Regions from separate parts of the Homo sapiens genome. Here region 2 is linked to region 1. The links come from fine-mapping of genetic effects on plasma protein levels. A gene starts in region 1. The other region holds a variant in brackets. All regions are shown on one strand. Distances are from middle to middle.

Region 1 (5,505 bases):
GGCAATTCTGCATGTATGACCTTATTTAGTCATACAGCTAGGCAAGGAGGTGACACTAAGCATTTGAGTACTGATGGGGTCTTGAATGAACAAGTAAATGAATGAATGAATGGATGGTGGCCGATGACTGTCATCTCTAGTTCTTACATTATGTATCTTATGCATCAGACTACACGGCATGGATATTCAGTGCAATGGATTTGATTGTGAATTGAGGCCCCCTTTTGCAATCTTGTTGCATGTTATGTTCGTGGAGCTCCTGCAATGAGCAGAGGCTGCTAAGCAGAAGCAGCGCACAGGCTGGGGGCAGGACACAGGGCCCCCGGCCTCAGGGGAGAGGTCTGTTCCAGCCACCTCAAGTCTATTCCTGTGAGTGCCCCTCCACACCCCTCCTGGATCCCCCCACTGCAAACTCTCTCCCCCTGGCTCCGGACTCTCTCCCCGTCCTGGAATTAATAAAGACTCTGTGCAGACTGCGGTTTGCAAGTCTGAAAGCTGGTTCCTGCCCGTGTCACTGCCTCGAGAAGAGAGGGGTCCAGCTCCCCACAGTAGCCCCTGCCTTCCTCCTTCCCAGGCAGGCGGAGGCACGCAGATATACCATTGACTTCCCCTCCCCTGCAGCAGGCACATCCTGGGCATCGAGCTTCAGACCCTGCCCCTGAGCAGCCCCTAACCCCACCAACAAAGGGTGGCTTGGGGGGGCTTTCACCCCAGCATAATCTCCATCAGCTACCCTCAAAGCACCCCCAAATAAACACACACCGTAAGTAAGAGCTGTACACTGGCTGTGTGCGTACATCTTCAAGACAATTCTCCCAGCATGCCCCTACCTTCCAAAATTCCAGAGCTGCTCCCTCCAAAGACCCAGGGAAAAGGAAGGGTTTGTCCAGGGTCCTGGGGTGGCCCCGTATAGACCAAAGCCTGATAGCTGTCCTAGAAGCAGAGTACTTGCAGAGCGAGTGACGGCAACTGTGGTATTGACACCAGTCCTAGCACCAGCTGAACACAGAGCATTTTTGATCTAGCAGAAATACAAGACCACGTTGTATTTGTCTTTGCAATAATCTCTTAGCTAGGAATACTGATCACCTGTAGACAGATAAGGAAACTGATGCTCTGTGGAGAGGTTTTCCTACCAGAAAGGCTAGAGCCAGAAATTTACTTCTAGGTCCACCAATACCTGCCTTTGACCAATGCCTGCATTTGACCTTTCCACGCTGAGCCACCCCTGCTGGCACTCCAGACTGCCACAGTGCTCCTGCCTCCACAAGGGGTCTTTAACTCATCCCTCGGAGCCATCGTGGTGCAGGGAAAAGCCCACAGGGCGTGTGGCTTCCATGCTGTTCCCTGACTGGCTGTGACCTAGGACAAGGAACAAGTTTCCCTCTCCTATTCTCTAGGTCTCACATTTCTTCTCCTCTAGCAGTAGTGGGAAGTGAGGGGTGGGGGACACGACCCTCCCCTGTTCCATCCCACACTCCAACCCCCAAAATCCCCCAGGGTCCCCGTCCAGCTCAGTCCTGGGGGCAGAAATGCAGAGTTCTCCAGGAACGTGGTCCCAGCTGTTTCAGTGCAGGCCGCCCCCTCCTGGCCACCAGCGGAATGTCAGCCTTCCCAGAGGGGCCGGGAGAACAGCAGTCGAGAAGCTCCCAGACTGGTGTGGGCGCTAGCTGTGCTCAGCGTGGGGATGGGAGGTGACCCAGTGATAATGGGAAGCTGGGCTGCCTGTCAGTCTGCGGGGGGCTCCCACCTCCCTGTTCCCCCACAGGGCACCTGGGGATCCAGCCTGATTTTTACCAGACCCTGCGGCCTGCATGGGGCTGGGTATAGGGCTGTGACCTTGACCCATGCAGAATAGAACCCTGTGTGTCGGGATCCTCCATGTGCTCCAGATGCCCCTGGGGACAGCACCAACATGGCCTTAACTCCCAAGCCATTCCCCTGCCTCTAACCCCCTGGCATCTGCAGGCATCCACCCCAGACCCACCCAACACCTCCTCCCCAGCTTCAGGCGCTAGGCAGAGACCTTGGCCCCTGCAGAATGCAGCCCTGTCCAGGGTCCCCTACCTTCCCCCCAGATCCCTCCCAGAGCAATACCAACCCGGGCCTACCTTCCAGGCCATTCAACCTGCAGCCCCCCGGCCTCTGTAGACATCGCACCCCCCAAACCCCCAGACCTGCCCAATGCCTCCCCTCCCCAGCTTTGGGCAGAACCTGTCTCTAGCCAGACCTGGGGGTGTTGGGGAGTCTGGAGGGCCGGGGTGGGGGCTGAGGCGCGGGACAGCTGGCCCGTATCCTCACACTGGGCCCGGGGCCCAGCCGGAGGGGCGGGGGCCTGGCCACTCGGGCCTTGGCTGGGGCTGGGATTTTTGGCCTGGCCGCCAGGCCCTCCCTTCTGCTTCCTCTCCCGAGGGCTGTCCTGGCAGAGGCCCCCCTCGCTCTTTCTGGCGGGAACAGGGCCAGCAGCGAAAGAACAGTCGCAGAGGGAAAGCGGGAAAGAGATGGGGGAAAGTGTGTGTGTGTGAGTGTGTGCTTGTGTGCATGTGTGTGCGTGTGTGTGTCAAGGAAAAAAGCTCGCAGTCCAGCAGCCCGGGCCTGGGAGGCTTGTGAGCCGGGCCTTTCGTAATTGTCCCCTCCCCGCGGCCCCCTCCCCCAGGCCTCCCCCCTCTCCCGCCCTCCCGCCCGCCCTCTCTCCCTCCCTCTTTCCCTCACAGCCGACGAGGCAACAATTAGGCTTTGGGGATAAAACGAGGTGCGGAGAGCGGGCTGGGGCATTTCTCCCCGAGATGGCGGGTCTGACGGCGGCGGCCCCGCGGCCCGGAGTCCTCCTGCTCCTGCTGTCCATCCTCCACCCCTCTCGGCCTGGAGGTAAGGACCCCTCGCCCCTGTCCCCAGCGCTGCCCACAGCTGCGGGCCCTTTGGGCCAGGTGACTAGACGCTCAAGGGGGAGACCTTCGTCCCTGGGAACTGCAAGGGGTCCCAGGTGGGAGCCCCTCAGCCACTGGGTCCTCGGAACTGCCCCTCCCAGGAGCCAGCCCCGTGCCCAGGAGGAACCTGTCAAAGAGACACCCTCGACTCAGAATAGTCCCAGCCCAGCATCCAGGCTTTGCTGCCCTGCGAGGGCTGAGGGGGCCCCTGCTCAGGTGCCCGGGTGCCCGCCCTGTAGGGGGATCAGAGCATCCTGGGGGAGGGCCCAGCGGGAACCCCTGGGTCTGGAGACACCACAGTCTGCACACCTGTGGACACAGCTGGGGTGCACACCAGCCCTGGGGACAGGGAACCTGGGCTTGATACCAGCTCAACCGCAGTGAGCTGTGTGACCTCAGCAGGTTCCTTGACCCCTGGGAAGCCGGGATCCCCCCGTCAGGAAGGTCAGGGCTCCGCTGAGGATGGGTTTGCAGGTTGGGAAGCTGCTGCTGTGTTCTCCCTGCTGAGGCAGGCAGGGACTCCTGGTATGCATTTGTGTGTGTGTGTGTGTGTGCATGCACACAGGAATGAGCGTGCTGTGTGCTCGTGTGTGTATGTGTGCATGCACAGGTGTGCATGTGTTCAGATGCCCGGCTGTGTCACTGAACAGGGAAAGGGATTTCTGGAGGGGTACATATGTCTGCTCACAGGTTCATCCTTAGGCAGGTGTATGCGTATGTTTGGAGGAGGTATATGAAGCTGCTCCTTAGTGTGTGCAAAAGTCTGCCACCTGACAGACATGTAGACATGTACACATGTAGACATGGGCGATCTGGCATCCAGGTGTGACACTGGTGTGGACTGTCACTGTGTGTGTTATGGAGTGTGTACATCTGTGTGTGTGAATGTGTGTGCGATGTGGCACGCAAGCATGGAAAGGCGGGCTGGAGAAGGTGTCTGTCTCCTGGCAGAGGCAGTGTGGCTGAGACAGAGGCTGGAGTGGATCCTGGGGCACTGCTGGGCCATCTGCTATGTGCCCCAACCCAGGCACAGTTGGTTATGGGGTTTGAGGGTGTGCCCTGTGGGGCTGCTATGCCGCGGCCAACGGGGGAGGACAGAAGAGGCTCCCGGGCATGGGAAAAAGGAGGGCATTTGGTAGGGGGGTCTGGGTGGAGTCTGGTTTCCTCGGGAGTCCTCCTTGCCATGAGAACCAAACGCTGAGTGGGGGGCGGGAGGGCCACGGGGTGGAGTCAAGGGCCTGGGCAGGAGCTGCAGCTGTTTCCGTGAGATTGAACAGCTTCCTGTGCAGGGTCCGCTGCTGGACCTGGATGAGGCCAAGGGACATGGGTACCCACAGGCGGGCCCCAGCAGGGGCAACGAGCCAGGGCCTGAAAGCAGCAGCCCCGGGTCCGTCTCAGCCTCCTCCCCAGGTGTAGCCCCCAAACACCCAGCCACCCTTCTTCCCAGATGGGGCCACCACCTATAGGGTGGCAGTTCATCATCAAGGAACCTTGAGAATTAGAAATTATTATCATCACTTGACAAACAAGGAAGCTGAGGCTCCGGCAGGCTAAGGCAGTCCCCGGGGGTTAGTATCAGCCAGCTCTCTGCCCCAGGTCAAGGGGCAAGGGGGTTAGGAGTGAGCTAGCAGGCAACATTTGGGGAGGGGAAGGCTTGGGGCTGAGTCCTTAAAGCAGGCATGCCCTAGGCAGAATCAGCTCTCTCCTTGTGTCCTCAGTGACACCGCTAAACGCCCAGCTGGCCTCACACTTTGCAGAGATCAATCTCAGCTCTGTCCCAGGTGGCTGGACTTGCTAGGTCCAAATAAGGGGTGTGTGAACTGATGAGCTCGTGTGGGGTTTTGCACAGAAGTGCTACTGAAGTCTGCAGAGGTCGGGGAGCCAACACAGGGAGTGGAGCGCTCAGTCACATGCTCACTGCCACTCACCTGGCTGTCCTGGGGGAGCCTGGCTTCTCCCTCAAGGAGGAGGGTGTCACTTATGCAAGTTCAGCGGCTCCAAGGAAGGAACCCTGTTGCGGGGGTGGGGGAGCAGGAGGAGGGGACAAGCCGCACAGCTCCCAGGCTGTTTCAAAAGTGAGCATGAGAAATTAACCCAGGGATAATTCTTCCCCATCCCCCAGAAATAGTATCAGGGATTTTTTTTTTTTTTTTTCCTGATTTCAGAACTGAAGATGGTTTGGAACAGAGGTTTCCTTTTCTTTTATTTTCCTTTTTTATTTTTATTTTTTTACCTTTTTTATTTTTTTTAAATTGAGACAGGGTCTCGCTGTGTTGTCCAGGCTGGTCTGAATTCCTGGGCTCAAGTGATCCTCCCACCTCCGCCTCCCAAAGTGCTTGGATTACAGGCATGAGCCACTGCCTCTTTTTAAATATTTTTTTAATTATTGTTTTCCGTCCTTAAGTAGGAACAGGGGTTTTCAACCTGGCTATCTATTAGACTTCCCACCCAAGAATCCCTGCTTGCTTTGGTTGGAGAGGGACCTGGACACAGACTTTTCAGGCTTCCCAGGTGACGGTGGGGTCGCCAGGGCCAAGAAGCACTGGTTTAGAGGTCGATCCCGCTCTGTGTGTCTGCC
Region 2 (2,707 bases), 33 kb after region 1:
GGGCAACAGCCAGGGAGGAGGCCGCTGCTTGGATCTGGGCCCCTTCCTCTGGGACTAGGCTCAGCTCCCTGGGCAGGACACCTCCTTAGGGGCATGCTCCCTGCCTGCTGTCGCCACCACTGCCCTCTGTCTGCAGGAGCTGCAGCTGGGCTTGGTGCTGGCATCCCTGGACTTGGAGTTGGTGTCGGCGTCCCTGGACTTGGAGTTGGTGCTGGTGTTCCTGGACTTGGAGTTGGTGCTGGTGTTCCTGGCTTC[G/C]GGGCAGGTGCAGATGAGGGAGTTAGGCGGAGCCTGTCCCCTGAGCTCAGGGAAGGAGATCCCTCCTCCTCTCAGCACCTCCCCAGCACCCCCTCATCACCCAGGGGTGCATAGTAAAATCCTTGTTAGGTTCTCCTAAGCATCTGGGGGTAACAGATAGCGGGAGGAGGGCAGACCAGGCCAAGGGACCCCAGGCTGCCCAATTGCAGAGTATCTGCCTCCTCAGTAGAGGGGTGGCAGGGCTCCAGACTGAGAAAAAGCCTGCCCTCCAACCAGGGAAGGAGCAGGTAGATCAGCCTGGCTCCCCTTCAGCAGTGCTCTGTGGCCAGGGGACCACTAGGAACTCCAGTTCTTCACCAGCTGGTGACTGAGCCCCACTCTGTGCCCAGCCTCAGGCAGTCCATGCTAGGCCTGGGGAGAGAAGGAAGGGGCAGACGGAAGGTGGAGGCACTGTTCAGCCCTAAAGCTCTGTGCCTGTACAGCTTCAGGGCTTTGAGGAAGCAATAGAGGCCAAGGAAGTCAGGGAGGGCTCTCTAGAGGAGGCGGCAGAACTCCCAGGCACAGAGCTCGGCTCCTGACCACTCCCCAACTTTTCTTTCTCCCCAGTACCTGGAGCCCTGGCTGCCGCTAAAGCAGCCAAATATGGTGAGTGCACCCCACAACCACTTGTGGCTCCCTTGCCACCACACCATCCCTGACAGCACAGGACTGGGGTGGTCACAATAGAAAAAGGCAGTTTCGGCCGGGCGTGGTGGCTCACACCTGTAATCCCAGCACTTTGGGAGGCCGAGGCAGGCAGATCACCTGAGGTCAGGAGTTCCAGACCAGCCTGAACAATATGGTTAAACCCCATCTCTACTAAAAATTCAAAAATTAGCCAGGCGTGGTGGCGGGCACCTGTAATCCCAGCACTTTGGGAGGCCGAGGTGGGCAGATCAACTGAGGTCGGGGGTTCCAGACCAGCCTGACCAATATGGTGAAACCCCATCTCTACTAAAAACACAAAAATTAGCCAGGTGTGGTGGCGGGCACCTGTAATCCCAGCTACTCGGGAGGCTGAGGCAGGAGAATCGCTTGAACCCAGGAGATGGAGGTTGCAGTGAGCCGAGATCACGCCACTGCACTCCGGCCTGGACGACAGAGCGAGACTGTATCTCAAAAAAAGAAAAGAAAAGAAAAAGAAAAAGGCAGTTTCTAGGACACGTTTATGACAGTTTAAAAACCTGGCCCCTGCCCACTAAATGCTTATGGTGCCTTCAACCCCTGTGACCACCAAAAACACCCTTGAAATCCCAGTTGCCCCCCAGGAGGCAATTCCACCATCCCTAAGCTTGCCCTGACCCTGACAGTTACATGGTCCCTGTGTCCAGGAAGGGACTGGGCCTGCTGTGGGTATGAGGAGTCTGGGCAGTCTCTGCCTCCACCCCAGCTCTCTGGCCCGAGCAAAGGAGCTGGTATTCCTCATCTGGGCACCCCGGGCCCCCGCCCGCCTTCCTGTCCTGCCAGCAGGACCGCTCCCACCACGAGCCAGCCCAGAGGACGTGGCAGTCCCACAGCCTCTGCACTTGGCGCTCTGGCAGCCCTGCCTGGCCAGACCCACGCTGTCTGTAGCCCCTGAATTCCTGGCCTCCTGTGAGCAGCGTTGGTGGGAGGTGGAAGACTCCCCCAGGGATCCACCAACCAGCCGGGCAGGTCCACTTGGGGCCAGTTTCTACCTCGGAAAATCCTGGCTTCCTCAGCGCCGACCCCCAGCAGCCCTGGCCTCCTCCCCTGCTCACTGCTGACTGCTTGGCAGGCCTGAGTCAACAGACATTGCCAGGGAAACAGAGTGACGTCATGTGGTGGAGCCGCGAAGGGCGCAGGCTCCCCAGCCACTTCCCGTCCCTGAAGCCCTGAGCACACTGCTTAACCTCTGCTCTGCCTCAGCGTTCTCATCTGCAAAATGGGAATGACAATAGTGCCTACCTTTCCTGCTGCAATGCATAAAAAATGGGCTGCTAAGTGTGAAGCACTCAAAATGTTAAGTGCCTGCTGTAGATACTATTACCGTTGTTTGTTTGTTTGTTTGTTTGTTTTGACAGAGTCTTGCTCTGTCGCCCAGGCTGGAATGCAGTGGTACGATCTTGGCTCCCTGCAGCCTCCATCTCCCGGGTTCAAGTGATTCTCCTGCCTCAGCCTTCCAAGTAGCTGGGATTACAGGCGCCCGCCACCACGCCTGGCTAATTTTTGTATTTTTCGTAGAAACAGGGTTTCACCGTGTTGGCCAGGCTGGTCTCAAACTCCTGACCTCAGGTGATCCACTAGCCTCAGCCTCCCAAAGTGCTGGGATTACAGGTGTGAGCCACCGCACCCGGCTTACAAAAGAACTTTTAAGGCCAGGCACAGTGGTTCACACCTTCGGGAGGCTAAGGCAGGAGGATCGCATGAGCCCAGGAGTTGGAGGCTGCAGTGA

Which allele goes with the higher level. Positions count from the first base shown, and alleles are read on the strand shown. Strength reflects both the effect of a copy and how common the allele is.
In carriers of allele C in region 2, the plasma level of the protein whose gene starts at base 2,772 in region 1 tends to be higher than with G alone (moderate association).

What was found. PIP is the chance, under the fine-mapping model, that this variant and not a neighbour inherited with it causes the effect. Protein levels are from antibody-based Olink assays in UK Biobank. Linkage for the fine-mapping came from a reference panel and not from the study's own genotypes, which makes the PIPs less certain.
Region 2: its variant is fine-mapped to the plasma level of the ELN protein (UK Biobank, PIP above 0.99). The variant lies in the coding sequence of ELN. If it changes the protein, the assay may bind it differently, which can mimic a change of level.

What each region holds. Positions count from the first base shown.
Region 1 is chr7:74,025,402-74,030,906 of GRCh38, forward strand. It overlaps ELN (elastin), which reads left to right and starts at 2,772. Exons shown (of 33, transcript NM_000501.4): 1 at 2,772-2,868. The coding sequence starts at 2,787. RefSeq lists enhancers at 1,183-2,155, 3,128-4,099.
Region 2 is chr7:74,060,240-74,062,946 of GRCh38, forward strand. ELN (elastin) reads left to right here. Exons shown (of 33, transcript NM_000501.4): 25 at 137-262; 26 at 862-900. ELN-AS1 (ELN antisense RNA 1) reads right to left here and starts at 2,041. Exons shown (of 2, transcript NR_183555.1): 1 at 1,971-2,041. RefSeq lists enhancers at 1,375-1,875, 1,876-2,376, 1,920-2,214 and a silencer at 2,017-2,209. The variant G/C (reference allele first, on the strand shown) is at 256.